Linked DNA regions of Homo sapiens. The protein of the gene in region 1 purifies or fractionates together with the protein of each later gene. This does not show direct contact. Each region holds a gene or a part of one and is shown in the gene's direction. Other genes may lie near its edges. The genes, in order: ACOT13, ATIC, DBT, NUP214, ECI2, TSPAN3 and ZMYM2.

What was found.
Region 2: the proteins of ACOT13 (region 1) and ATIC fractionate together in Homo sapiens (co-fractionation; one large-scale study listed by BioGRID). This does not show direct contact.
Region 3: the proteins of ACOT13 (region 1) and DBT purify together in Homo sapiens (affinity purification with mass spectrometry; one large-scale study listed by BioGRID and IntAct). This does not show direct contact.
Region 4: the proteins of ACOT13 (region 1) and NUP214 fractionate together in Homo sapiens (co-fractionation; one large-scale study listed by BioGRID). This does not show direct contact.
Region 5: the proteins of ACOT13 (region 1) and ECI2 fractionate together in Homo sapiens (co-fractionation; one large-scale study listed by BioGRID). This does not show direct contact.
Region 6: the proteins of ACOT13 (region 1) and TSPAN3 fractionate together in Homo sapiens (co-fractionation; one large-scale study listed by BioGRID). This does not show direct contact.
Region 7: the proteins of ACOT13 (region 1) and ZMYM2 purify together in Homo sapiens (affinity purification with mass spectrometry; one large-scale study listed by BioGRID and IntAct). This does not show direct contact.

What each region holds. Positions count from the first base shown.
Region 1 is NC_000006.12:24,701,291-24,705,599, forward strand, and holds the end of ACOT13 (acyl-coenzyme A thioesterase 13), read left to right. Parts: intron 1-168; coding exon 169-325; 3' UTR 326-3,756; downstream 3,757-4,309. UniProt on the Homo sapiens protein: Catalyzes the hydrolysis of acyl-CoAs into free fatty acids and coenzyme A (CoASH), regulating their respective intracellular levels. Has acyl-CoA thioesterase activity towards medium (C12) and long-chain (C18) fatty acyl-CoA substrates.
Region 2 is NC_000002.12:215,332,317-215,336,625, forward strand, and holds part of ATIC (bifunctional purine biosynthesis protein ATIC), read left to right. Parts: intron 1-65; coding exon 66-191; intron 192-1,033; coding exon 1,034-1,141; intron 1,142-2,602; coding exon 2,603-2,688; intron 2,689-3,718; coding exon 3,719-3,808; intron 3,809-4,309. UniProt on the Homo sapiens protein: Bifunctional enzyme that catalyzes the last two steps of purine biosynthesis.
Region 3 is NC_000001.11:100,207,894-100,212,202, reverse strand, and holds part of DBT (lipoamide acyltransferase component of branched-chain alpha-keto acid dehydrogenase complex, mitochondrial isoform 1 precursor), read left to right. Parts: intron 1-1,078; exon of another isoform or gene 1,079-1,163; intron 1,164-1,431; coding exon 1,432-1,509; exon of another isoform or gene 1,510-1,510; intron 1,511-4,309. UniProt on the Homo sapiens protein: The branched-chain alpha-keto dehydrogenase complex catalyzes the overall conversion of alpha-keto acids to acyl-CoA and CO(2).
Region 4 is NC_000009.12:131,194,529-131,198,837, forward strand, and holds part of NUP214 (nuclear pore complex protein Nup214), read left to right. Parts: intron 1-704; coding exon 705-766; intron 767-2,687; coding exon 2,688-4,309. UniProt on the Homo sapiens protein: Part of the nuclear pore complex. Has a critical role in nucleocytoplasmic transport.
Region 5 is NC_000006.12:4,121,833-4,126,141, reverse strand, and holds part of ECI2 (enoyl-CoA delta isomerase 2), read left to right. Parts: coding exon 1-7; intron 8-22; exon of another isoform or gene 23-771; coding exon 772-892; exon of another isoform or gene 893-1,182; intron 1,183-4,095; exon of another isoform or gene 4,096-4,193; intron 4,194-4,309. UniProt on the Homo sapiens protein: Able to isomerize both 3-cis and 3-trans double bonds into the 2-trans form in a range of enoyl-CoA species. Has a preference for 3-trans substrates.
Region 6 is NC_000015.10:77,064,161-77,068,469, reverse strand, and holds part of TSPAN3 (tetraspanin-3), read left to right. Parts: intron 1-4,309. UniProt on the Homo sapiens protein: Regulates the proliferation and migration of oligodendrocytes, a process essential for normal myelination and repair.
Region 7 is NC_000013.11:19,993,227-19,996,726, forward strand, and holds part of ZMYM2 (zinc finger MYM-type protein 2), read left to right. Parts: coding exon 1-693; intron 694-3,500. UniProt on the Homo sapiens protein: Involved in the negative regulation of transcription.

The sequences.
Region 1 (4,309 bases):
CTGGTTAGGACCAGCCATTCACATTTGATAGTACAGAAAGCTTACCAATACTACCGTTAAAACTATTTTTAGGAGTAAAATAAGTTACATAGGAACACTGTTGTGAGATGCACACAACTTTCCCTTTGAAAAATTATCTGCTGTTAACTATATTCATTTTCTTTCAAGGTACATGTCACCTGCAAAATTAGGAGAAGATATAGTGATTACAGCACATGTTCTGAAGCAAGGAAAAACACTTGCATTTACCTCTGTGGATCTGACCAACAAGGCCACAGGAAAATTAATAGCACAAGGAAGACACACAAAACACCTGGGAAACTGAGAGAACAGCAGAATGACCTAAAGAAACCCAACAATGAATATCAAGTATAGATTTGACTCAAACAATTGTAATTTTTGAAATAAACTAGCAAAACCAGAAGCAGCTAGAAATATTCTTGGAGGAAAAGGACCTGGATATCAAGTAGGGTAAAGGTGGGGGTGTCTTTTTTCACTTTAAGCATCTTGTTTTCTAATCATGTGTGATAATTGGGTGAAAAATTCTTAGCTCAAAGTGTTTTAAAAACAGGTAAAGCAAAGAAACTAGCAGGACCACTCTCAGTTAAGATTAAAACTAAAGTCCAGTGTTAAGCTAAAGGAGAAATAGAAATTAATGGTTCTAATTCTGTTTGGGCTGCTAGGAACAACAGAAATTTTTCATGGTTCTAGAAGCTGGAAAGTCCTGGGTCAAGGCCCAGCAGATCCTGTTAGGTGAGGGCCCGCTTCCTGGCTCATAGATGGTGCCTTCTCACTGTGTGGTGGAAGGGGCAAGTGAGCCCTCTGGGTTCTCGTTTTTGAAATGGAGTCTCGCTCTGTTGCCCAGGCTGGAGTACAGCAGCACGATCTCGGCTCACTGCAATCTCTGCCCCCTGGGTTCAAGTGATTCTCCTGCCTCAGCCTCCCAAGTAGCTGGGACTATAGGCATGTGCCATCACACCTAGCTAATTTTTGTAGTTTTTTGTAGAAACAGGGTTCACCATGTTGGCCAGGCTGGTCTCGAACTCGTGACCTCAGGTGATCCGCCTGCCTTGGCCCCCCAAAGTGCTGGGATTACAGGTGTGAGCCAATGTGCCCAGCCTGGGTTCTCTTTTGTAAGGGCACTTACTCCAATCTTGAGGGTTCTGCCCTCGTGATCTAATAACTTCCCAAAGACCCCCACCTGCTAATATCACCTTGGGGGTTGGGATTTTAACATACAAATTTAGGGGAAACACATGGAGACCACAGCAATGGCCAATCCTTAGCGAATCTTAGGTCCTTCCCAGATCTAAAATGCCAAGCTACACTTGCATTTCCTTTTTTTAAGATTATGAAACTTCAAAATATATGAACTACAGCCCATATTGAAAAATAAAATAGATTGAGCCATATGCCTAAAAAAGACCTCAAGAAAAGTTTGAGGCTAAGCATGTTAGTGTTACAGGAAATGGTCCAATAGAGGGGGAAGAAAAAAAGCATGCTACTAGCCCCTTTTCTTGTACCGAGAATAAAACCATGCAGATCTCAAACCTCCAAGTCTATAGTATTGAAAAGACCAAGTTCACTTCTCAGAAGTCTCCAAGTTCAGTTGACTGTGGCACTCTGAGACAGCTTCTGTCACTCAGGCTGGAGTGATACAATCACAGCTTCCCATAGCCTCAAAATCCCAGGCTCAAGACATTCTTCCACCTCAGTCTCCTGAGTAGCTGGAACTACAGGCGTGTGCCACCACGCCTAATTTTATTTTTGTAGAAACAAGGTCTCACTGTTGCCCAGCCTCGTCTCAAACTCCTAGGCTCAAGCAATCCTCCTGCCTTGGCCCCCCAAGTACTGGACTTACAGGTGTGAACCACTGCACCCAGCTGACTCTTACTTGATTTCTGTCAGGGAATCTTAATGAACATTTCATGACTAAAGACTAAAAAGGATGCAGCTTTAAGTAAATTTAAGTCAAGTTAACAGTTAAAGACAAATCCTTTCCCTACATTAGATCGCCTGCTGATCTGTCCACTGTGAAAGGGCAGAAGACTCCACAGTAGCAATAGCAGCAGTGAGCATACAGGAGTCCCAGATGTTTACTTCTAGTATTTCCCACTAAAAGGAAGCTGGGCTCCTTGGAGAAACAGCTGACTCCAGGGCTTGAGGCTGGGACAGAAAGGTTACAGTATCTTATGCATGAAAGGAGATGCTCAAAATAATAAAGGCATGCAAATTATGATTTGGAGGGAAAAAATATGAGGCCATAGTGTTTAGGTAGATAATAAATGGCAGAGATAGAACACTCTCTTACAACAAATGCTGTAAATGGACAAAGCATTAGATTTGGAAAATCACTATTTTGTAACCATCATAGTTAAAGACTGGTTTGGGTTTTAGTCTGGAAAGAATCGCCAAGGGAGCTCCTGATAAAGGAACAGGGTATTTGCACATTGCTTCCCAGAGATTGCTAGTAGTAAGTACCACACATAGGGCAAAACCAGGACACCTTGACCAGGCGCTCAAAAGTAACATCAATGAAGAGCAGATGGAGAGTATACTTGAGAAGGGCGTTAAGCATGAATAAACAATTCAAATGCAAAATGAGTAACAATTTACAAGAAAAATTGCCCTGTACTCCAAAAAACATAGAGGTCATGGAACACATAAAGGCTAAGGAACTGTTCCACATTAAAGACAACTGAGAACAACTAAATTCAATGATCCTGTACTCTAGAGGGGGGGATCTAAAACAAGCTACCAAGGATACTGGGACAACAAAACGAATATGGATGATAAAGAGTATCAACATTCCCTGAGTTTGGTAATTTTACTCTAGTTATATGAAATATTCTTGTACTTGGAACATATGCCGAAGTACTAAGGAAGGGGTAAGGAAGCACAAAGTGTGCAACAAACTCAAATAGCTCACAGGTATAAGTGTACAGAGAAAATGAAAAAAATGTGGCAAAATAATAAAAATGAGGGTAAAGATTACACAACAGCTTTCATATTACTCTGGTAACTTTTCTAAATTATTCCAAAATAAAAACGTAAACAATGGCTGCCAAAATGCCTAACTTGGTGAACATAAGTGTAATTCAATATGGTAAATTAATTCAACATGGTAAATTAAGAGCATAGGCCTTAAGAGCCAGCCAGCCTGGTTTTAAATCCTCCACTACTTATGATCTGAGCTTGAGCAAGTTACTTAACCTCTGCATCTATTTCCACCAAAGGTTGAGAGGTTAAGACAAGAGCTTAGAAGAGTACCTGGTTATAATAAACATTCAAAATGTTATTTCAAATAGATTCTAATTTTTAAATAAGAGGACACATGAAAGCATTTTGAAATTTAAGAATGGCCCTTTCCCATGAAGCAAGGCATAAGGCCAGGTTGCTAACTGTTGAAAGCTGACAGTATGTTCTTGATTCCTGTTCTTGTTGAAGTTACACACTCAATTGCCAGGTATTTTTCTTCTGAATTTACTATTTAGCCACAGACTATGAAATAATTCTCTAAGGTGACCAGTAACATCAGTGAAATGGAAAGAAAAAGTTAACACTTCAAACTTTGTGTATTCACCTGAATAGTCAGGGAACTTTCACCTATTTTATTTAGGTTTTCTTTTTCTTTTTTTCTTTTTTTTTCAAATTCCAACCAGAAGCTAAATACAATTGGAAACTGGTAAGCACTAGTTTTACTCCAAAGGAGTAGGATCATTCAGATTTACTCCAATAAAAGTATGCAACCCTTAAGCAAAGCTTTTCTTCATTTAAAAGGAGAAAAAAAAAAAAACCTATACAGTAGTCTTTCCTTATGTTCATTGCACAAAATGAGTTCTGCTTTTAGAACTTTGACACTCAATGGTTAATTTTACAATTTAAGATTCCAACTTTATAACCTTTTTTCTACTCCAAAACACCCTTGTAAAGTTTTTCTTTAGGATGGTGTAAAAACCAGCATTTCTGCACAATTCACTGGAATTTTTTTCTTTGTAATAAAAATCTCTTCTCTGTAAAACCAAAAACAAAACAAAACAAAACAAAACAAAACCAAAAGAAAAGTCCTCTACCTATCATGGTTTCTGCAGCTATGCATGTATTTCTGTTTTATAGCTGCTTTATAGCTACTTCAGACTCCAGATCTGCTTTAATGTGTATAACTGCATCCACACGCAGCAGAATACTCTTACAATAGCAACTTGGGGAAAGAGATCTGGAAAAAAAAAATACATGAGTACCAGGAAACAAACATGGCCCAGTAAAATATGAGGCAAAAATGCCTACAATGAGATGCGTTTTTCATTTA
Region 2 (4,309 bases), on another chromosome or scaffold:
AAGTGTGCATACATCTGACCTTACTGATCCTGCTTAGTAATGTGCATGTATATTTTTACATTTAGTTCTAAATGGAGCCCCTGGATTTATAAACTTGTGCGATGCTTTGAACGCCTGGCAGCTGGTGAAGGAACTCAAGGAGGCTTTAGGTATTCCAGCCGCTGCCTCTTTCAAACATGTCAGCCCAGCAGGTAAAGCTCTGTGCTCTGGAAAGCTCCAGAATTGTTCGAAAGGCATTTCTTCTTAAATTTTTTTGAATATTAACAAGTTCTAATGTGAATATAGACATGCTATGAAATCTGAAAGTCATCTGTTGATAACAGTATCAATGTAATAATATAAAATCTGATACACACACACACACAGAATTGTGTAATATTGTCAGGAAAATGAGGCAGGAATTTGTTTGTGGGGTGGAACCATAAAAGTTTAGAAAATAAAAGTGAAATGTCCTAATGCAATAGACTAAGTCTTGTGCCACATCTTTGAAAATGTAATGGAGTAAACATAAAGAAGTTCTTCTTTGGACTCTTTATCTGAAACTTCTTATAGTCGTTGTATGAGATACTTTGCTTCTGTGTTTAAATCATGAACTCCGCAATTGAGTTGTCTGTACACCACATCTTGCTGACAGTCCTCCAGCACATGATTTGTTCTCAGGTGTTTATTGGGTGTTAAAGTGATGTGAGTGGGGAAGAAATAAATGATGTGTGATATCAAAGTGATATCAAGCAGAACAGAGAGAAAGAGTGAGTCAGTAATGAAGTAAACGAGCTTCACCTACACGCTGGGTACTGTCAGGCTTCAGTGGCTCTGTGGTTTTGGAGGGCAGAGAGGAGATTTCCCTCACACTGCTCCCACAACCATATTTTTAGTGTATAATTATCTGGCTAAATAGATTTCTGTTTAATTTAGCACAGGCACTAGAAAATGTGCTGCGTAGACTGGGTGTTAAGAAAACTGTCTTGATTTAGGAGTTGACAGGTAGTAACTTTAGCTTTCTTTGTTTATGATTTTACTATTTTCTAACCAGGTGCTGCTGTTGGAATTCCACTCAGTGAAGATGAGGCCAAAGTCTGCATGGTTTATGATCTCTATAAAACCCTCACACCCATCTCAGCGGCATATGCAAGAGCAAGAGGTCAGACTCATAGGGCTTTTTGATTTGGGGGAGAAAGAAAAAGCAATATTTTATCCTAAATAGAATAAAGAGGATAGAATAAAGAAAAAATATATAGATATTCTGTATAATATATAGATGAAATTAAGGACTTCTATCTCTATGTAAATATACAGTTATTCTATATAATATAGTTTGATTAAAGTAAAATACCCTTTGTTTCATTATAGGATTTCCTATTTAATTTGTTTTATTAATATTTGAGATTGATTCTGTGAGTACCTCAAAATACATTTCTTTATAAAAGTGTATGTTAGTATTTTAGGCCGGGCGCAATGTCTCACGCCTGTAGTACCAGGACTTTGGGAGGCTGAGGCGGGCAGATCACGAGGTCAGGAGATCGAGACCATCCTGGCTAACACGGTGAAACCCCGTCTCTACTAAAAATACAAAAAATTAGCTGGGCGTGGTGGGGGGTACCTGTAGTCCCAGGTACTCAGGAGGCTGAGGCAGGAGAATGGTGTGAACCCGGCAGGTGGAACTTGCAGTGAGCCAAGATAGCGCCAGTGCACTCCAGCCTGGGTGACAGAGCGATACTCCGTCTCAAAAAAAAAAAAGTATTTGTTAGTATTTTAGTGTAATAAATGGAAACACAATTGGAATTTGGTCAATGTAATTTTGCTAATTTAGGCTATTGAATGCATTTGTTATTGTTTAATATGTGACCAAAATTGAAATTACAAAAAGCTATTCTTTTTTTTTTTTTTTTTTTTTTGAGACAGCTTCTTGCTCTGTTGCCCAGGCTGGAGTGCAGTGGCGCCATCTCAGCTCACTGCAACCTCCACCTCCTGGGTTCAAGCGATTCTCCTGCCTCAGCGTCCTGAGTAGCTGGGATTACAGGTGCGTGCCACCACACCTGGCTAATTTTTTTGTATTTTTAGTAGAGACATGGTTTCACCATGTTGGCCAGGCTGGTCTTGAGCTCCTGACCTCAAGTGATTCACCTGCCTCAGCCTCCCAGAGGGCTGGGATTACAGGCGTGATTTATGGCTCTTCTAACTTTACTACATTTGGTTAGAGTCATGTTTTATCAGAGACATTTACTTGTTGAATTTAATAACCCATGAATATCCCTTTAGTATTTCTGAAAGTTCTTGAGAAACTATTACCATAGTTTATCATCTACAGCAGTGGTCAGCAACTTCAGCTGAATCCAGCCTGCCACCCTGTTTTTGTGAATATAGTATATATAAATTGGTCCTTCACAGAAAAAGTTTTCTGAGTGTCACTCTAGAGGGTAAAATTAAAGAATACTTTCTTACTGGTTACTTCAGTTAAATGACTTATTGATCTGTTAAAATCTTATGTAAACAGTAAGATTAGCTTTAGAGTAATGAATTTTATATGACAGTGGAGAATTTTATTACTTTTTCTGTATCAGGATACTTTGTGATAAATACCTCATTTTAATTTTATTTACAGGGGCTGATAGGATGTCTTCATTTGGTGATTTTGTTGCATTGTCCGATGTTTGTGATGTACCAACTGCAAAAATTATTTCCAGAGAAGTTAGTGGACATTCATGTATCTTAATCTGTGTGTTGAATAAAGCTTTATTTGTTCATAATGTTAATTGAAACCATAACCTATAATATTTATATTTATAATATCTTTTAATTAGCTAAGTTTATCATTTAATGTTCATATTTTAAATAGAACATTAATCTTAAATTGTTAATTTTGAAATGTAGTGAATTATTGTTTCAGATGGATATTTGGCTGTTATGATGTTTTTTACTTATATATTTATTTTAAATTCTTTGTTGTCTTCATGCCAAAGTTACTGTTTCTGAAGAGCAGAAGTTGTAATTTTAGGTGGTGATGCGATATAATCCATCTTACTGCATAGTGGGTAAAAAACAGAAACTACATTAATAAACTTACCCCATCAGTTGAATACCAAACAGGTATTCCAGACAGGTGGGGGTACTGTTGGTAGTAGGAAGACAGGAAGAAAAGAGAAAAAGATTAAATAGCTCAGAAAGGGGAAAAAAATAAGCAGAGGTGAAGGCTGAAGGAGCATGTGGCTTGGCACTATTTTGTTGCTTTAGGATTCTTTCCATGGCCACTGCCATCCCTGGGTTACAGGTTACAGGAGGGCTGTGACATTTGTATCTTTCGTCATGTCAAATCTCTGATTTAATCTGGTCTTGCTGTTAAGGAAAACGCCTTGCCGGAAGAGGTCATTTAACCATGTACTAGGAGAGTCAGGACTAGAATGTGCTCTTGCTCATTCAAAACACTCCCTGAAGAAATATTTCCTCCTGAGGTACATGTGTTAAGAGCAAATCAGTCATATTTTCTTAGTTTAAACTGAAACGAACAAAAACTTGGAGAGGACAGAAAGTTAGGATCTGCTATACAGAAAGCTGTATTCTAATAGATTTCTCTTTTCAAGTATAGCGTTAGCATTGTTTGTTGGAGGCAGAAACCAGAATATGCTGCCACATTATTTAAGACTGATAATTGCTGCTAGATTTTTTTAAGAGGTGTTCTCTGATTTTTAAAAATAGAAATTAAAATTTAATATTTTTGCAGGTATCTGATGGTATAATTGCCCCAGGATATGAAGAAGAAGCCTTGACAATACTTTCCAAAAAGAAAAATGGAAACTATTGTGTCCTTCAGGTGAGTGCAATTCATGTTTGAAGCGGTAATTTGCTCTTTTATTCTGTGTCTCTTTCTCCCTTGTTTACTCTTTCCTTTATACTCATACCCTTCTAGTTTATCCTTATTATAGTTTATTTTCCCCAATCCTGCATTTAAAAAAATACTATTAACTTGGGGTTTTGAGATGAGAGTAGCTTTCTTACCCTCAATTTTAACTTTTTGCTGGTTGTGATGGCTCATGCCTATAATTTCAGCCACTTGAGAGGCTGATGTGGGAGGATGGCTTGAGGCCAAGAATTGGAGGCTGTATTGTGGTACTATGATGCCTGTGAATAACGACTGCACTCCAGCCTTGGCAGTGTAGTAAGACCATGTCTCTAAAATACTAATAATAGTAACAATATTTAATGGAAAGTCTCTCCATCCTTCTGTTACCTTTTGAAAAGATAACTATTTTAAATTTCTTGCTTATCTTTCCTGAAATAGTCTATGTATTCAGCAAATATTTGCATGTGCATT
Region 3 (4,309 bases), on another chromosome or scaffold:
TTCTTGGACAAAATTTGGATTATACTCAAATATTTTTATATGTAACAGTTTAGACTAACCTTAGGGGTTTTTAGATAAAGACTATTAAAATTACAGTTATTGAATCAAATGCTTACTAAAACTTTCAAGTTGGCTGGGCGCAGTGTCTCACGACTGTAATCCCAACACTTTAGGAGGCCAAGGCAGGCAGATTGCTTGAGCTCAGGAGTTCAAGACCAGCCTGGGCAACATGGTGAAACCCCATCTCTACAAAAAATACAAAAGTTACCTGGGCATGGTGGCACACGCCTATAGTTCCAGCTACTCGGGAGGCTGAGGCAGGAGGGTCACTCGAGCCAAGGACGTTGAGGCTACAGTGAGCTGAGATCATGCCACTGCACTGCAGCCTAGGTGACAAAGAAAGACCCTGTCTCAAAAACAAACAAGAAAAACTTCCAAGTCATAAAAATTAAGGAACTCGTAGCAGTTCTTTTAATTATATTTTTCTTCAGTTGATCTACTCTCTTAACCTGTCCTAACTAATGAAAATGAAATGTCTCTATATATTTAAACTTTTTTCTTAACTCTCTAGTTCAAGAATTTGATTTTTTTCCCATCAAGACCCCGATGCACTGAGAAGAATAACACAATGCATGTAAAGAACTTTAACAGGGACCAGACAAGGGCAGTGGGGGAGGGAATTCTTTTTAAGAATGATCTTAAGCATTTTTATTTTGCTATCTTTTAAATTCAATACAATGCATGGCCACCACATGTAAGGTATGAAACTTGATTATTAGATCCCAAAAACAGATTATCAAGAACATTTTGGGTACAGTTAGGGAAATCTGAATATGGACAGGAGAGAAATGGTATTAAGTGACAAAAGGGAGAAGGCAGCAGAGAGGGAAAATATAAATGCTATTCAGTGAGACTTGAGCTGTAAAGTAAATGTTCAGGACATCTCTGCCCTTCAGCTGGCCAAGGACACCAAGTAGCAAACTGGCATCTACTGGTCAGTGCGCTTTGAAATCCTCGTTACGTGTTCTTTCCACACAGAGAAATAGCTTACCTGCTTTTTTTGTGTTTTGATTCCTAGTATTACTTCTCATGGAAATCTTAAGATCAACATGTCAGTGAGGAAATCACCTAGAATTTAGACATTTTCTTTGGAACTTTGGCTGGTCTGTATCATTATTTTGAAAATCTCCTTGATGTTTACAAGCTACCTGACTACTTTATCTTTTATTCTTTAATGATTAGGGTGACCTAGTTCCACATGGCCTGAAGGTAACATTGGCAGTAATGTGACTAGGTACATGTAGACTTGAAATTAAACTCAGCATAAATAAGAGTTCTCTCTCTCCCTCCTTTTATACCTCTTATTGTTTCAAATTCTCTATCCTTTCTAAGTTAAAAGTACTAAAATTGCATTCTTTTTCTGTTAAACAGGCTGCTTCCTTGGGATTACTACAGTTTCCTATCCTTAACGCTTCTGTGGATGAAAACTGCCAGAATATAACATATAAGGTTGGCTATGCAGAGTAAAAATGTTCTTATTATTAATAGAAGATGGGGCAAATGTGCTTGTAGATTAGAGACTTCTATTGTACCTCAAATAGTGATCTTTTTTAGACTAGAATTAAAGGTATGGGGTAAAACATTAAACTTAAGTCTAATTCATTGTTGTTGTTTTTGTGTTAATAATACTGTTTAGAGATTCTTAAAACTATTTTTAAGCTTTTTTTTTTCCTGCTTAAAATAATGGAAATACATAGCTGTATGGCAGATTATGTTACCCACTCTACTTACCCTCTCAAAAAGAAGCAGCTCTTTCAAAATTGAATTCCTGGAATTTTAATATTATTATTCTTATTCTTCTTCTTCTTCTTCTTCTTATTATTATTATTATTATTGGCAGAGTCTCACTCTGTCACCAGTTTGGAATGCAGTGTTGTGATTGTGGCTCACTGCAGCCTCAACCTCTCAGGCCCAAGCAATCCTTCTGCCCCAGCCTCCTGTGTAGCTGGGACTATAGGCATGCGCCACTATGCCCAACTAATTTTTAAATTTTTTGTAGAGACGTGGTCTCATTATGTTGCCCAGGCTGGTCTTGAACTTCTGGTCTAAGCAATCCTCCTGCCTCAGCCTCCCAAAGTGCTGGGATTACAGGCATGAACCACTGTGCCTGGCAAATTCCTGGAATTTTAATATTAAGAATAATTTAAGTGAGAAAAATAATAAAAGTTTGAATTCAATTTGAGTAAACTCTTCTGTGAGTAGTGAAAGTTTCTTAAGACCGAAAACTCTTTTTGAGATGCCTTTCCTGAAGTTTACTTATCATTAGAAGTGCACAACCAGAGGCTGGGCACGGTGGCTCACGCCTATAATCCCAGCACTTTGGGAGGCTGAGGCGGGTGGATCATGTGAGGTCAGGAGTTTGAGACCAGCCTGGCCAACATGGTGAAACCCTGTCTCTACTAAAAATACAAAAATTAGCCAGCCGTGGTGGCCAGCGCCTATAGTCCCAACTACTCAGGAGGCTGAGGTGGGAGAATTGCTTGAACCCAGGAGGCGGAGGTTGCAGTGAGCCAAGATTGTGCCACTGCACTCCAGCGTGGGCGACAAGAGCAAAACTCCATTTCAAAAAGAGAATTAAAAAAAGAAAAAAAAGAAAAGACATGTACAACCAGAAAGTGAGCTTAGATATTCTGGGAGGTCAGCTCCCATACGGTTAATACAGTCAGCTGTATTAATTTTAATTTTAATATCTCCTGATTAAGTATATACTTATTAAAAAAATTTCAGGCAAGAAAATGATGTTGGCCGGGTGTGGTGGCTCCTGCCTGTAATCCCAGCACTTTGGGGGACAGAGGTAGGAGGATGGCTTGAGCCTAGGAATTCAAGACCAGCATGGGCAACAAAGTTAGGAGGCCCCATCTCTACAGAAAAAAAAAATTAGCCAGGCATGGTGGTGCATGCCTATAGTTTTAGCTGCTTGGGAGGCTGAGGCAGGAGAATCATATGATACCTGGGAGATGGAGGTTGCAGTGAGTTGTGATCATGCCACTGCACTCCAGCCTAGGTGACAAAGTGAAACCCTGCCTTTGTCAAAAAAAAAAAAAGAAAAGAAAAGAAAAGAAAAAAGAAAACAAAGATGTTTACCCTCAATTCCATGACCCTAAGATAGCTCACTGTTTATGTTGAGATATACATCTTTCTAGGATTTCATTTTTACATACTTTTTACAAGATATAGAATTATTTATATTTTCTTTAACTTGCTTTTTTCTTTTTCTTTTTTTTTTTTTTTTGATACAGAGTCTTGCTCTGTTGCCTATCTAAAGTATTCCCCATAGAGAATATCTATGCTGTGGTGTAATCATCGCCTCACTGCAGTGTCCACCTCCCACCGCAGCCTTCTGAGTAGCTGGGACTATAGGCACGTGCCACCATGCCCAGCTAATTTTTGTACTTTTTTTTTTTTTTTGTAGAAATGGGGTCTTGCCATGTTGCCCAGGCTGGTCTCTAACTCCTGGGCTCAAGTGATCCACCCACCTCAGCCTCCCAAAGTGCTGGGTTACAGGCATGAGCCACTGTGCCCAGCCTCTTCATTTTCATTTACTATATTGTAGACATCATTGTCAACAAGTATAGCTTTGTTATTTATTTAGCCAGTGACCTATTTATAAACATCATGATTATTTGCAGTTTCTCAAACTTATAAACAGTGTGTACTCAACATCCCTGTGTATCCCTACATACTTCTGCACTTAGTTCCTTAACACGAATTTTTATAAATGTTGGTTCATGTTGTCATATGTTCTCCAGAAAGTCTCTACAGTTTAAGTATCCGTTACCTGAAATGCTTGGGACCAGAAGCGTTTTTGGATTTAAGATTTTTTTGGATTATGGAATATTTGCATATACAAAGGAGATATCTTGAGGACAGGACTCAAGTGCAAACATGAAATTCACTTATGTTTCATTTACCCCTCATACACATAGCCTAAAGGTAATTTTATACAATATTTTTAACATTTTTGTGCATGAAACAAAGTTGGATTTGTTTTTTTTTGTTTTTGTTTTGGAGACAGAGTCTTGCTCTGTGGCCCAGGCTGGAGTGCAGTGCTGCGATCTCGGCTCACTGCAAACTCTGCCTCCTGGGTTCATGCCATTCTCCTGCTTCAGCCTCCTGAGTAGGTGGTACTGCAGGAGGCTGCCACTACGCCTGGCTAATTTCTTTTTGTATTTTTCGTACAGATGGGGTTTCACTGTGTTAGCCAGGATGGTCTCCATCTCCTGACCTCGTGATCCGCCCGCCTCGGCCT
Region 4 (4,309 bases), on another chromosome or scaffold:
CCTGAGTTTTTATCACAGTGAATAATCTGTTCTGATTCACACTCGCGTGGGATTTTCTTCCTTAGCTATGGTGTCTTCACTTACAGTGTAAAGAAAACGTACAAAAGGAGAGAGGAGATGGTGAAAGGAGTCACAAAGTTTTTGAACTAGATTTTCCTAGCCGTAAAACTCAGTTCTGTCAAAATGACTGAGTTAGGGCTTCTATTTCATTGTATCCATTGTTTTCCCTAGCAGTGTGGGGCTCTCTGACATGCTTGTTGGTCTTGGAGGGGTTCTGAGAGGCTCTCCCTAGTCTTAAGTGCTTCTGTCTTACCAGACCTTCCTTCTGTCCCCTCACTTAACAGACCATCTGCTCCGGCCACCATTCCCACATGCACATTTGTCATGTGTCTCTACTGCTGCAGCTTTGCTCATCTTGCAAGAAGTCCCCACTCAAACTTCTGCTACAGAAAGCCCAGCCATCCCCCAATGGGCTCTCAACTGCTATCCCTGTCGTATCTCACACACAAACTGCTTCTCTGCTTAGAGATCATAGAGTGGCCTTACTGCTTCTGAGATAGGTGCTTTGACTCTGTTGTCATTTATCTTCTAGATTGTAAATTCCTGAGGGCGGTTTGTATGAATGAATGATAAAATGGAATATTAAGAGGGCAATATTGTGCCTTGGTTTGTTCCTTTTTAATTTCTCTTTTTCCACTTGTTAGGACTGGCTTTAATTTTGGGATAATCACACCAACACCGTCTTCTAATTTCACTGCTGCACAAGGTACAGACTCTGTGTTGAGTAGCATTACTCATGTGTTTTCTCTAAATAAGTACAGGTTATTTTTGCCCACATGTTAGTATTTGACTTGTTCCTGAATCTTACTTACAGTATCTGCAATAAGCTCAGTGTTGATAATGTGCATTAGAAATATGCTTAATTTAAGAAACTGATGTGAAGGATTTCTATTTTTATAATTAAGGACAAGGAAAGGATTTGCTTCTAGAAAATCAGGGCTGTGCTTTAACATTTAAATGTTAACATGTGAATTAAAATTTCTCCATTTTTTGTCTGTAATTTAAAATTTCTTCAATTTATAGGGTGATTCTGTAGGGCAAGATAGACATGGTAATAGATAGACTGTAGAAATGAAAGACCAAACTCGTTTTTTTCCTTGATAACATACCAGCAAACACACTCATCCCATGCATGTTGTTAAAAATCCATCAATAGACTGGGCGCGGTGGCTCACGCCTATAATCCCAGCACTTTGGGAGGCCGAGGCAGGCGGATCACCTGAGGTCAGGAGTTCAAGACCAGCCTGACCAACATGGAGAAACCCCGTGTCTACTAAAAATACAAAATTAGCCAGCCGTGGTGGCGCATACCTATAATCCCAGCTACTCAGGAGGCTGAGGCAGGAGAATTGCTTGAACCTGGGAGGCAAGGTTGCAGTGAGCCAAGATTGTGCCATTGCACTCCAGCCTGGGCAACAAGAGTGAAACTCTGTGTGTCCCCCCCCCCCCCCGCGCCAAAAAATCCATCAATAGCATGTTTTTAACATTTAAAAGAATTTGAAGCCCTATAAAGAAACCAGATCTATTTGTTAAGTGCCTTTCAGTTATCCGTTTATGATTAAGTCTTTTATTTTATTTATTTATTTTGAGATGGAGTCTCACTGTTGTCATCCAGGCTGGAGTGTAATGGCGCAATTGCAGTTCACTGCAACCCCCACCTGCTGGGTTCCAGCGATTCTCCTGCCTCAGCCTCCCTAGTAGCTGGGATTACAGGCGCCCACCACCACATCCAGCTAATTTTTGTATTTTTAGTAGAGACAGGGTTTCACCATGTTGATTGATCAGGCTGGTCTCGAACTCCTGACCTCGTGATCCACGTGCCTTGGCCTCCCAAAGTGCTGGGATTACAGGTGTGAGCCACCACGCCCGGCCTCGTTACTCTTGTATTTATTAACCACTGTTGTTTGACCAGGCCTTATGGGTGCTTTACCCATATTTCCTGCGATCTTTGTAACAGCACAATGAAGGTAGGTATTGTAATGATCTAGATTTTCCAAATGGGGGAATTGAGGCTCAGAGAGGTAAAGCAACCTTTCCAGATTCACACAACCAGCGAGTGGCAGAGTGCATAGCTCCAGAGCCCATGTCCTTGACCACCAGACCGTACTGCCTCTGTCAAATAGCTGACTTAGTAGAGCACTAATAAGTAGCCATTAATTGTACATAAAAATGATTTTCTGTGGACTGACACTTTATTTGCTCATAAAAATGAAGGAAGAACTTCCATTTTGAATCAAGTCCTGGTCTATCAGGAGGTCCACAGGCCATTGCTGTGCTGAGGATGTTATTAAGGAAAGCACACAGCTAGGGTAAATTAAGGGAAGAGGCTTTTTTATTTCTCTTTGGGATAATATGTTAATTTCACATATTCTAGATATTTTGTATTTGTTGTGATTTAATGGTCATAAAAAAAGTATTTTTTCCTTTTCACCTCAGACGACTCAGAGCTGATGTTTGTGTGGAGAAGCACTCATTCCACCTCCTTAGAGAAAGCTGCTGTGAGAACAAGGCACCCTGACTCTGTAGAGGGAGGAGAGAAACTTTGGCTTAGAAACACAATCAGTGGAAATGTAATGGGTCATCTTTTGCTAAATCCAACCCATTTTCTGATTTCTTTTTCTTGCTAGGGGCAACACCCTCCACTAAAGAGTCAAGCCAGCCGGACGCATTCTCATCTGGTGGGGGAAGCAAACCTTCTTATGAGGCCATTCCTGAAAGCTCACCTCCCTCAGGAATCACATCCGCATCAAACACCACCCCAGGAGAACCTGCCGCATCTAGCAGCAGACCTGTGGCACCTTCTGGAACTGCTCTTTCCACCACCTCTAGTAAGCTGGAAACCCCACCGTCCAAGCTGGGAGAGCTTCTGTTTCCAAGTTCTTTGGCTGGAGAGACTCTGGGAAGTTTTTCAGGACTGCGGGTTGGCCAAGCAGATGATTCTACAAAACCAACCAATAAGGCTTCATCCACAAGCCTAACTAGTACCCAGCCAACCAAGACGTCAGGCGTGCCCTCAGGGTTTAATTTTACTGCCCCCCCGGTGTTAGGGAAGCACACGGAGCCCCCTGTGACATCCTCTGCAACCACCACCTCAGTAGCACCACCAGCAGCCACCAGCACTTCCTCAACTGCCGTTTTTGGCAGTCTGCCAGTCACCAGTGCAGGATCCTCTGGGGTCATCAGTTTTGGTGGGACATCTCTAAGTGCTGGCAAGACTAGTTTTTCATTTGGAAGCCAACAGACCAATAGCACAGTGCCCCCATCTGCCCCACCACCAACTACAGCTGCCACTCCCCTTCCAACATCATTCCCCACATTGTCATTTGGTAGCCTCCTGAGTTCAGCAACTACCCCCTCCCTGCCTATGTCCGCTGGCAGAAGCACAGAAGAGGCCACTTCATCAGCTTTGCCTGAGAAGCCAGGTGACAGTGAGGTCTCAGCATCAGCAGCCTCACTTCTAGAGGAGCAACAGTCAGCCCAGCTTCCCCAGGCTCCTCCGCAAACTTCTGACTCTGTTAAAAAAGAACCTGTTCTTGCCCAGCCTGCAGTCAGCAACTCTGGCACTGCAGCATCTAGTACTAGTCTTGTAGCACTTTCTGCAGAGGCTACCCCAGCCACCACGGGGGTCCCTGATGCCAGGACGGAGGCAGTACCACCTGCTTCCTCCTTTTCTGTGCCTGGGCAGACTGCTGTCACAGCAGCTGCTATCTCAAGTGCAGGCCCTGTGGCCGTCGAAACATCAAGTACCCCCATAGCCTCCAGCACCACGTCCATTGTTGCTCCCGGCCCATCTGCAGAGGCAGCAGCATTTGGTACCGTCACTTCTGGCTCATCCGTCTTTGCTCAGCCTCCTGCTGCCAGTTCTAGCTCAGCTTTCAACCAGCTCACCAACAACACAGCCACTGCCCCCTCTGCCACGCCCGTGTTTGGGCAAGTGGCAGCCAGCACCGCACCAAGTCTGTTTGGGCAGCAGACTGGTAGCACAGCCAGCACAGCAGCTGCCACACCACAGGTCAGCAGCTCAGGGTTTAGCAGCCCAGCTTTTGGTACCACAGCCCCAGGGGTCTTTGGACAGACAACCTTCGGGCAGGCCTCAGTCTTTGGGCAGTCGGCGAGCAGTGCTGCAAGTGTCTTTTCCTTCAGTCAGCCTGGGTTCAGTTCCGTGCCTGCCTTCGGTCAGCCTGCTTCCTCCACTCCCACATCCACCAGTGGAAGTGTCTTTGGTGCCGCCTCAAGTACCAGTAGCTCC
Region 5 (4,309 bases), about 21 Mb from region 1:
TACTGAGGTAAGAGTTACTGACCTTTGTCTGATCCCAGAGGGCCCGTTCTTAGTCATCAAAGTGGTATTTAGTTGAGCAAAAGTGCAATATCTGCTTCTCTGTGTCAGTGCAGTTAATTGTGACTTTGGACAAGCATATTTCTCTAAACTGCCTCCATCCATAGGTGGGCATTCATTCTTTCTCTTTGACCTCTGTTACCTGTTCATCCTGCTGGTCTCATGAGATTTGACTGGAAAACATAAAAGTGAGCTATAGTTGTAAACAAAATTATCTTGCACTGAGGCAGAGGAATTTAGCAAATTCTCATCCAGCCAGAGGAATGGGAGATTTCCATGAACGCTGAAGGTAGGAGACTCGGAGGAGTCTTGTAAACACAGGAGGAGGTCATGAAGGCTTTTCTCTTTATTCCTGCCAAATCTGTAATTCCCACTTGTTGTGATATTGCAGCATGTGCTCAGTCACCCAACCTAATCTCTAAGACTGCGGCTGGTTTACAGCCCTGAACTCACTGTCCAGAATACAAGATTCAAACCAGGGTTGACCCATAGGTCTCACTGGTTGGTCTTCCATCCACTGCCATTCAGACGGATGCCCTGGATGAATCTGGTGCGGAAGACCAGGGAAGTGGCAGGACAAGGAGGCACTGCTGGTGGTGGCTGTGGAAACACCCAGCCTGACAGAAGGCTTTATCTCAGAGTCAGACTGTCTTGCCCATGCTTTAGTCATGCTGCTTTGGCACATTTAATGATTTTGTGTTTCCATTTCTGTAGGGAATTTGTGGGCTGTTTTATAGATTTTCCTAAGCCTCTGATTGCAGTGGTCAATGGTCCAGCTGTGGGCATCTCCGTCACCCTCCTTGGGCTATTCGATGCCGTGTATGCATCTGACAGGGTAAGTCAGCTCCTAGAAAGCAAGAGGTCAGGCAAGCAGCGCGAGATGAGAGCCTTTGAATCCTCCTTCAGCGTTGCCAGTCATAAGCAGGTTACATGTTGTTTGTGGTAGAATTAACTGAATTTAGATTTTTCCCAAAGCATTAGGCTGATTTGACTGATTTTATTTTTCCTTCATTATTAACTTGCATTTTGTTGTGAACATTGTTCCAACTCTGACTGTTCCGGATTCTAATCAAATTCCACAATAGGTATACAGCTTTCATGTTATTCTGAAAGATTCAGGAGACACTTGAAAATTTGTTATGGGAGGGAGGAATAGCATCTTTGCAGGTTGTGCAAGGGATTAGTTGATCCTTTTTACTGAGTAAATGGATTTAGAATTTTAGAAGGAGAAGGACCTGTGAGCATTATCTACTGTCACTCCCTCCTTTGCAGATAAGAAAACTGAAGCTCTGAGAAGTTCCTTGCCCAGAACACAATTCAGCCTTGTGTTCACCATTGCATTATACAGATTTTAGTTTTTATTTTTACTACAGTAGTAATATATATGTCATAGTGGAAAATAAAATTTTGAAAGATATGAAAAAGTACCAAGAAAAGCTACAAGGTAAAAATCACTCCTTATCTTGCCACCTAGAGATAACCAGTCCTAACGTTTGGGTTATTAACTTATCTTGTTTAACCAGTCCCTGACTGCTGGAACCCTAGGCTGTTTCCAATTTTTATCATTACAAGCACCTAATAACCACCTTTAGGGTATCAGATTGTCCAGTGACTTATGCTTATGTGATGGTAAACTGTGCTGATGATTGCAGCCTTCTAGGGAGCATATGGTTTTTACCACTGAAGAGATTTCTAGTTTTGTTCAGAGGTATTTTCCCCACTGATAGACAGGACCATATAATAGCATCCTTAATTCTTCGAATTTTCTTTTGCTGGATTCCATTGAACCAGATTGGATGTATTGACAGACCTAATTCTTATGAATAATTTTCCCACAAAATTAGCAAATGAGATTCTAGGTGCCAGGCTGCCCAGCCTTTGTAGGTAGAGGTTTCTGTTCAAAGGCAGAAATCAATGTCTTTGTTCACAGTCTGTGTATTAGATGACTGATTAGTCATTGACCTGCTTTTAACAGGGACTGGGTCAATGGTTCCTGACCTAAAATTGGGGATCTCATTCTTTAATACTTGGAGGGCAAATATTGTATTTGAATCTTGTTCTGATTCTCCCACTGAATTGAAAATTACTTTCAATATACATCATCCTTATTTTTTTTTTTTTAAGAGATGGGAGTCTCACTCTGTCACCCAAGCTGGAATGCAGTGGCACGATCTTGGCTCACTGCAGCCACCACCTCCCGGGTTCAAGCGATTCTCCCACTCAGCCTCCTGAGTAGTACAGGTGCGTGCCACCACATCGAGCTAATTTTTTTGTATTTTTAGTAGAGACAGGGTTTCACTGTGTCGGCCAGGCTGGTCTCGAACTCCTGACCTCAAGTGATTCGCCTGCGTTGGCCTCCTGAAGTGCTGGGAGTACAGGTGTGAGCCACTGAGCCTGGCCTGCATCAACCTTTTAAAAATGTTGATGACTTCCATCTTATGATATAAATTGTAATAAATGTTGAAATCAGAAAACATATATACATAATACATATAAAACATATCTATTCTATATATATTATAATATATGTATATTGCATATATATATTAAATGCTAAAAAATTTGGCCAAAAGTAAAATTTATTTGTCAAATAGTGTCTTCTGATAAAAGTTTACCCAACCAAACAAATCAAGCATCATTTAAAATAAAGGAAATTGAGGTGGGCAGATCACCTGAGGTCAGGAGTTCAAGACCAGCCTGGCCAACATGGTGAAACACCATCTCTACTAAAAATATAAAAATTAGCCGGGCTTGGTGGCGGGTGTCTGTAATCCCAGCTACATTGGAGGCTGAGGCAGGAGAATTGCTTGAACCCAGGAGGTAGAGGTTGCAGTGAGCCGAGATCGTACCACTGCACTCCAGCCTAGGTGACAGAGCGAGACTCTGTCTCAAAAAAATATATAAGTAAAAAATAAATAAAATAAAGGAAATATGCTAAAGGAAAAGGCTGTAGAAAAAATTGTTTTATAAGATTTACCATTATTGGCTTCAAGAATAAATATCATATTAAATGATGGGTTAATATTTAACCCATATAACCAAAATATTAATCAGTACATTTAATCTATTTTATACTGTGGGCAATGGTTAATAATGCCTATTAGCTCTGTCAGCAAATGATACATTTCCTGTATGAGTTAAGAAAAAGGTAGAAATCATAACAATAATAAATCTTTGAGTGGTCACTGTTTAGGCACTCTATTCACATGCATTATGTATATTATAAATATACGCATACACACACACATATTCACGTAATGTACAGAGTAGCCCGATGAAAGAAGGACTTGGCCAGGCACAGTGGCTCACGCCTCTAATCCTGGCACTTTGGGAGGCCAGGGCAAGTGGATCACCTGAGGTCGGGAGTTCAAGACCAGCCTGGCCAATGTGGTGAAACCCCTTCTCTACTAAAAATACAAAAATTAGCCAGGTGTGGTGGCAGGCGCCTGTAGTCCCAGCTACTTGGTAGGCTGAGGCAAGAGTAAGGCTGGGCAACAGAGTGAGACCCTGTCTATAAAAACAAACATTCTCCTCCAATGTGGCAAAAATAAGTTTTACAATCTAGGCTGGGCATGGTGGCTCATGCCTGTAATCTTAGCACTTTGGGAGGCCAAGGCAGGTGGATCACTTGAGGTCAGGAATTCGAGACCAGCCTGGCCAACATGGTGAAGCCCCGTCTCTACTAAAAATACAAAAATGAGCTGGGTGTGGTGGTGCACGCCTATAATCCCAACTGCTCGGGAGGCTGAGGCAGGAGAATCGCTTGAACCCGGGAGGCGGAGGTTGCAGCGAGTTGAGATTGCGCCACTGCACTCAAGGCTGGGCAACCGAGCAAGACTCCGTCTCAAAAAAAAAAAAAAGCAAAGAAGGATTGGTTCCCATTTTACAAATGAGAAAACTGTGGTACAGAGAGGGTAAGAAACTTTCCCAACGTCCCTAAGTAGTCTGACGCCAGAGCCTAAACCCTTAACTCCACCTGCTGCTCTCTTTCTGAAAATCAGCATTTTAAATGCTGCTTACTGGCAACTTTGCATGTACCTGTTTGTGTCCCTTTAGCTGTTGTTGGCAGGTTTCTCAGTTTCCTGCTTGTATTCCTTAGGCTGTGTCTTCTGGGTACATTTTTTTGAATAAGTTTTCTTTTGGATAAAAAAAGAAGATACATGACATTAACAGAAACTTTTAAAAATATTGTGATTATTTTTATGTATATGCTGCATATGTTATAGATTTATATCTTCTAACAGTTATATAG
Region 6 (4,309 bases), on another chromosome or scaffold:
AGTAACCATTTTCTTTAAATTAGATTTTTATTTACTCTAAAATATCAGTTCTAAGTGACTCCTCTGAATCTTTGGATATTGTGTAAATATATGTACTGTTATTCCAGTGAAGAAAGTTATTTTGAACTTCAGTGGTGCTTTTCATAGCGGGTTATTGCCAAGACTGAAGTGGTAATGTTTAGTAAAAATATGCTTTATCTTGGTTAGTAGGGTAGTAAAGTTTTTGTGAGCTGTGATAAGGAAGTTAAGCAGATACGCTGGGGGCAAATGTGTCACAGTGCAATGTAGCTAATGAGGAAACAGCATTAGGTATGTCTCCCAAGAAAGTATTAGTTTGTGGACTAACTGTGGGAATCTGATGATGATGGGTAATGGCAACTAACATTTGAGTTACTATACCCCAGGCACTGTGCTAAACACTTTACATGGCATATCCTCACAGCTTTCCCATCTAGCAGGGAATATTAGGTACATTTTAGAGGAGAACATTAAGGTTGACTGAGCCAAAGTAGCACACCCAAGGTGTGATACAGCCTGCGTTCAAACCCAGGTTGTCCCATACTCTAGAGACTGTGATGTTAGGACAAAGTGTGATTTCAGAAGATTTGTAAAGAGAAGAAAGTTGTTAGAATCACTTCTCTAAAGCATGCTGATTTTGAGATTGCTAAAATTAGAAACTGTACCAGAATTTACATGACACTTTGTTTGGTTTTGAATTAAGTCATTATGAGGAAGTACATTAAAAAATGTTAAAAGGTTCTTCCTGGGAATTTGTAATGCATTCTTCAGTTCTAATAAATGTATTCTTATATGCTGGCCCCTCCCTCCTTTTAATGCCTTGAGATGATGAATAAGTGGAAGAATAAACATACTCTCCATAGAGCTTATCAAATGTTTACCTAGGTTCCCTTGGGCAACTGTAGGCAATAAAAACTATGTTGCATTGGCTCTTCACTGTCAGATGGTAATGGCTGATTGTTAACAAGGGTCAAAGTTTAATTGCTTTGGCAAGACCTTTAAACTACACTTTCTTATGTCTTGATATCCTGATTCTGCTGGCATTTTGTTCATTGAACTGTGACATGGAGATAGATATATACCTGAAATACTCAGGCTGTAAATTATCTGACAGCTAAAATCGTTACTGTTGATTTGGTGTAGATAGTTTGGAACAATGCTGTAATAATGTTACTGTGGAAAGGCACAAACCAAAAGCAGAAACAATCATTTCTAAAATCCTGAAATTTGTCTTAATGGAAATAGGGAACTCCTGCTATGGTTAGAATGTTTGTCCTTTATAAAACTCATGTTGAAACTGAATCCCCAATGTGGCCGTATTGAGAGATGGGGCCTTTAAGAGGTGATTGGGTCATGAGGGCTCTACCCTCATGAATGGATTAATCCATTCATGGATTAATGGATTAATGGGTTTTCATGGGAATGGGACTGGTGGCTTTATAAGAAGAGGCAGAGAGACGTGAGCCAGCATACTCAGCCCCCTCACCACGTGTGATGTCCTGGGCCACCTCAGGACTTTGCAGAAGGCCCTGACCAGCTACGGCCCCTTGACCTTGAACTTCTCAGCCTCCATGTATGTAAAAAAATTTCTTAAATTACCCAGTTTCAGGTATTCTGTTCTAAGCAACAGAAAACAGACTAAGACAGTTTCTCACCAAATTCTAGAATATTAAGATTTGTAGCTTGAAAGATAATCTTGGACAAGTGAAAGGATGTACAGCTTGGATCATCTTGGATCTCTGTTTTTATGGAATGATGAGGCTTTAAATATAAGTGTATTCATGCTGGACCCATGAGGATTTATTGAAGAAGGTTAGAAGTGTTTTAGGTAAATGACTAAATTTTAAAGGCTTTTTTTTTTTTTTTTTTTTTTTTTTTTTGAGACGAAGTCTTACTCTGTCGCCCAGGCTGGAGTGCAGTGGTGCGATCTTGGCTGACTGCAGCCTCTGTCTCCCGGGTTCAAGCGATCTTCCTGCCTCAGCCTCCCGAGTAGCTGGGACTACAGGCGTGCGCCACCATGCCCAGCTAATTTTCGTATTTTTTTAACAGAGACAGGGTTTCACCATATTGGCCAGGCTGGTCTCGAACTCCTGACCTCTTGATCCATCTGCCTTGGTCTCCCAAAGTGCTAGGATTACAGGCGTGAGCCACCGCGCCCAGCAAAGGCTATTGTATTAAATAGGCATTAGCCTATTCTGTAAACTGCACCTTTGTACCAAGGTCAGACAGGATTTTTAGTTTGGTAAGTCATTTAATCTGACCAAAGAGGGCTCGTCTAAAACAAGTTTAAATCAGTACTTCCTACCATTAAGTTTTTATTCCGGTAAATTAATTGATTATTTAATCAAGTCCTATGTTATACAAATTACCTTTACTTTTTTTTTAAACCCTATTAGAAAAACTAATTGGCTAATACTTATTTTGCTCATATTTATCTTAGGCATTACAGGGACTGGAACAGAAAGCTTTGTCCATGCTTATAGAATTTATAATCTTAAATATCTATTTAGGTTGTTGTTTTTCATCTGAGAGGTGATAGTATAAAACTGAGACACCTGTAGAGTGGGGGAAGTACCGCAAAAAAGTCAAACGCCTTTTAAATAAATGCCTTTAGAAATAGCTTTGGAACGTGGCACCTTCACTAACCATCATTCATTCATATGAAATACTTCACACATATAAATTGTAGTTGAAAGCCATATGTAACCTTTAAAACTTATCCTGCCTTTAAAAATAAAACTTATCAGCCAGGTGCGGTGGCTCATGCCTGTAATCCCAGCACTTTGGGACGCCAAGGGTGGCAGATCACCCTCCTGACTAACACGGTGAAACCCCGTCTCTACTAAAAATACAAAAAATTAGCCAGATGTGGTGGTGGGCACTTGTAGTCCCAGCTACTCGGGAGGCTGAGGCAGGAGCATGGCGTGAACCCGGGAGGCGGAGCTTGTAGTGAGCGGCGATCGAGCCACTGCACTCCAGCCTGGGCGACAGAGCGAGACTCCATCTCAAAATAAATAAATAAATAAAACTTATCACGCTTATGTCTGTGAATGTATATAATTAAGGAAAATTTGCTTTGTTAAATATAACACTACTATTTGAGCACCTACTTTGTGCTTATATTGTTGATAAATGATGAAAAGACAGTGAAAAATCCCTATTCTTACAGAACTTACTTTCCGGTGAAGCAAGACACACAAAAATAAACAAGAAAAATGATCAGAGTGATGTGTTATGCAGAGAATTAAAGGGTGATGTGATAAAGTGATTGGGTCGTGCTTTATGTTGGCAAAAAAAATCTGGAGTATAAGAAGTTGCTGACTTGGGTGATTTGGAAGAGATTGGGAGACTGGGGGGATTCAGAACTGAAGGAACAGGCTGTAGGCTGTAAGGCAAAAATATACTTGCTATGTTCAAATTACTAAGAGGTTTATACCGTCATGCTTTTGTTTAAAAAATAAAACTTTATAATGAGGTATTTCAAGTGTGGTTCTCCCTTGTCACAAATCTTGTACATACTTTGTGTTTTCCAGCACATCCTACACATTCGAGGTGGTAATATGATACTTTTAAACCGGAACCTGCATCTGATATCCTGGAATTTGTTTCTCTACTTCCTGTATTTCTCCTATCATGAATGACTGCTCTGACAAAGAATATGTCATGGGACACACCTTCAGCTAACTTTGCTTTTTCATGCTTGTTTTCAATTCACTAGAAGAAAATCTAACTTGTCAGGAAGCAAGTACATAATAGGAAGTGTCTGTCTTAGTTTGTCTTCAACAGTTAAGAAAATGAATGTTTCCACTCTTACTACATTCTTAGTCACCTGTCCACTGACCAAGAGCCTTGTGGCCCTGAGTAATCATTTAGAACTTGGAATCAGCAGGGGCGCTCTCTCTAGTTGCAGTTTAGGGAATGGGTTATTAGCTTTCTAGGATATTTATCATGCTTTGAAATAATTTAATGAATTTTATTCCATAAGATCCAATTCAGGTTAGGCTTGTTTGATTTTTTTTTTCAGAAAATGTATTCCATAAAGTTTGTACTTAGACCAGACGGGTGTACTAAGAATCATTCATGAGTAAATGTGTGTTGAATATCTACCCTTGACCTTTTTTTGAGAAATAGAGTAAACACAGTCCCTGTAGTCTGACAGCTAATGGGGAGAGAGGGTAGACTTTTCATCGAATTAAATTTCTACATGCACCTTTCCCCCAGAAATCTTACTCATGGCTGGTCTCAAGTAAGTCTTTATTGAAAAATATTGACATATCTTCTTCCTCTTCCT
Region 7 (3,500 bases), on another chromosome or scaffold:
CGTCAGTGGAAGATGATGATGATGTTGTTTTTATCGAACCTGTACAACCTCCCCCACCTTCTGTACCAGTGGTAGCTGATCAAAGAACCATAACATTTACATCATCAAAAAATGAAGAACTACAAGGAAATGATTCCAAAATTACTCCTTCCTCAAAAGAGTTGGCATCTCAGAAGGGAAGTGTAAGTGAGACAATTGTCATTGATGATGAAGAGGACATGGAAACAAATCAAGGGCAAGAGAAAAATTCCTCCAATTTTATTGAACGAAGACCTCCTGAGACTAAAAACAGAACCAATGATGTGGATTTCTCCACTTCCAGTTTTTCAAGAAGTAAGGTAAATGCAGGAATGGGTAATAGTGGTATCACCACAGAACCAGACTCTGAAATTCAGATTGCTAATGTTACAACTTTAGAAACAGGTGTAAGCTCTGTGAATGATGGCCAATTAGAAAATACTGACGGGCGAGATATGAACTTAATGATTACACATGTAACATCACTGCAGAATACCAACTTGGGAGATGTCTCTAACGGACTGCAGTCAAGTAATTTTGGTGTTAATATACAAACATACACCCCATCTTTAACTTCACAGACCAAGACTGGAGTAGGACCTTTTAATCCTGGTAGAATGAATGTGGCAGGAGACGTTTTTCAGAATGGAGAATCTGCAACTCATCATAATCCTGGTAAGCAGTAAGAGATACTCTACTTCATGTAAATGAATTTAAACTTTTGGCTGCTGCTTTTTTCATTGTAGTAACTGGTATTACCTTGTTTAGTTTCATCATGTGAAATATGTGAATTATATTGAATTTTATCTTAAGTTTGGTATTTTAATAAGAATTGTAAAACCATGTATAGTATTTTTCTGTGGATTACTAAAAAGTTAATCATAAAGTAGTTTTATATTTAAAGGATTTAAGAAAAAAATACTCTTTACATTCATCACCAAAGTCTGATAATTTGGCCGGGCACGGCGGCTCACACCTGTAATCCCAGCACTTTGGGAGGCCAAGGTGGGTGGATTGCTTGAGCCCAGGAGTTCGAGACCAGTCTAGGCCACATAGCGAGACGCCATCTCTAAATTTAAAAAGCAAAACAAACAAAAGAATGAAGTGTGATAATTTAATATCTTGTTTGTCATGCATTACTTTTTGCTAATAGAATTTTTACTAGTGTTTTAGTATATAAATTAGAGAACCAAAAGATTAATATAATAGCACACTTAAAGAACAGTGTAATATTGTACAGTAGTTGCATTTAGATTTTTTTTTGAGATGGAGTCTTGCTCTGTCACCCAGGCTGGAGTGCAGTGGCGCAATCTTGGCTCACTGCAATCTCCGCCTCCTGTGTTCAAGCGATTCTCCTCCCTCAGCCTTTCAAGCAGCTGGGATTATAGGCGTCCACCACCACGCATGGCTAATTTTTGTATTTTGTATGGGGTTTTATCATGTTGGCCAGGCCAGGCTGGTCTCAAACTCCTGACCTCAGGTGATCTGCCCACCTCAGCCTCCCAAAATGCTGGGATTACAGGCGTGAGTCACTGCACCTGGCCGCATTTAGATTTATTTCTACTTTCCCTGTGCTTATTTAATTTAATTAATTAGTTAATTTTTTGGGACAGGGTCTCTCTCTGTCGCCCAGAGTGGAGTAGAGTGGCACAATCTCAGCTCACTGCAACCTCGACTTCTTGAGCTCAGGTGATCCTTCCATCGCAGCCTCCAGAGTAGCTGGGACCACAGGTGTGAGCCACCATGCCTGGCTAAATTAAAAAAAAAAAAAAAAATTATTTGTAGAGACGGAGTCTTACTGTGTTGCCCAGGCTGGTCTTATACTCCTGGGCTCAAACATTCCTTCTGCCTTGGCCTCCTAAAGTACTGGGATTCTAGGTATGAGCCACCATGCCCAGCCATTTTATTTTTTATTAAGAGTTGGCTAAGGTTTTATTTTTCTCACATTTGAAGAAAGCCAAACATATCATCCTTTTTTTCTTTTCTAAAACTACTTTAAAGTTATGATTGACATGCAAAAGGCTGTATATATTTAATGTCTACAACTCGATAATGCCGTGTTTATTTTTGACCACGTATCTTTAGCTTTTAGTTAGCATTTTACTACTAAAAAATTTTTAAAAATTATTTTTATTTTTCAAGGGCATAAATAAGCAATACTTTTTTTTCTTATTTATTTGTTTATTGACAGAGTCTTGCTGTATCGCCCAGGCTGGAGTGCAGTGGTGCAATCTCGGCTGACTGCAGCCTCTGCCTCCCTAGTAGCTGGAATTATAAATGTGTGCCACCATACCCAGCTAATTTTTGTATTTTTAGTAGAGACGGGGTTTCACCATGTTGGCCAGATTGGTCTTGAACTCGTGGCCTCAAGTGATCCATCTGCCTTGGCCTCTCAAAGTTCTGGGATTACAGGTGTGAGCCACTGTACCCAGCCCCCCACCTTTTTTTTTGAAGGTTGATAGTTTTCTTGACTATTTGAAATTGTTTTCTGTGAGCAGCCTTGTTCTGTGAAAACTTTAAAATATGGAAGTGATAAGAACTCTGTGCCAGCCTGGACAACGTGGTGAAAAAATACAAAATACTGAAAATATGAAAAGTTAGCTAGGCATAGTGGTGCACACCTGTGGTCCCAGCTACTTGGGGGGCTGAGGTGGGAGGATTCCTTGAGCCCCATAGGCAGAGGTTGCAGTGAGCCAGGATTGCACCACTGTATTCCAGCCTGGGTGACAAAGTGAGACCCTGTCTCAAAAACAAAACAAACTCTGTGACTTTTTCATGACATGTCTGTGGATGTCTCTCTCTCTCTTTAACCTCTCCCCCAATTCCTCTGTGTGTGTGTGTCTATCGGCGTTTCTCTCTCACATGCCTCTCTCTGACCCATTCTGTCATCATTTTAGGCTCATTATCCTAGGGATTGTGGAGAATAATGTGAAGTAACTAAAATCTAGGCAATGTAGAATGCTATATGAATTGCTAGTTATTTTTCTTATTTGTCGAGTAATGTCTGATTATTGAAGACTGCTTAGAAAATCTATAATTTAAAACAAGAGCTGGTGCCAAGCATGGTGGCTCATGCCTGTCATCCCAGCACTTTGGGAGACCAAGGCAGGAGGATCACTTGAGCTCAGGAGTTTCAGACCAGCCTCTGGGCAACAGAGCAAGACCTTGTCTCTACTAAAGATAAAAAAAAAACTAGCCAGGGCTGGTTGCGGTGGCTCAAGCCTGTAATCTCAGCATTTTGGGAGGTCAAGGTGGACGGATCATCTGAGGTCAGGAGTTTGAGACCAGCCTGGCCAACATGGTGAAACCCCATCTCAACTAAAATACAAAAATTAGTGGGGCATGGTGGTGCATGCCAGCTGCTCGGGAGGCTGAGGCACGATAATTTGTTGAACCTGGGAGGCGGAGGTTGCAGTGAGCAGAGATTGCACCACTGCACTCCAGCCTGGGCGACAGACTGAGACTCTGTCTCAAAAAACAAA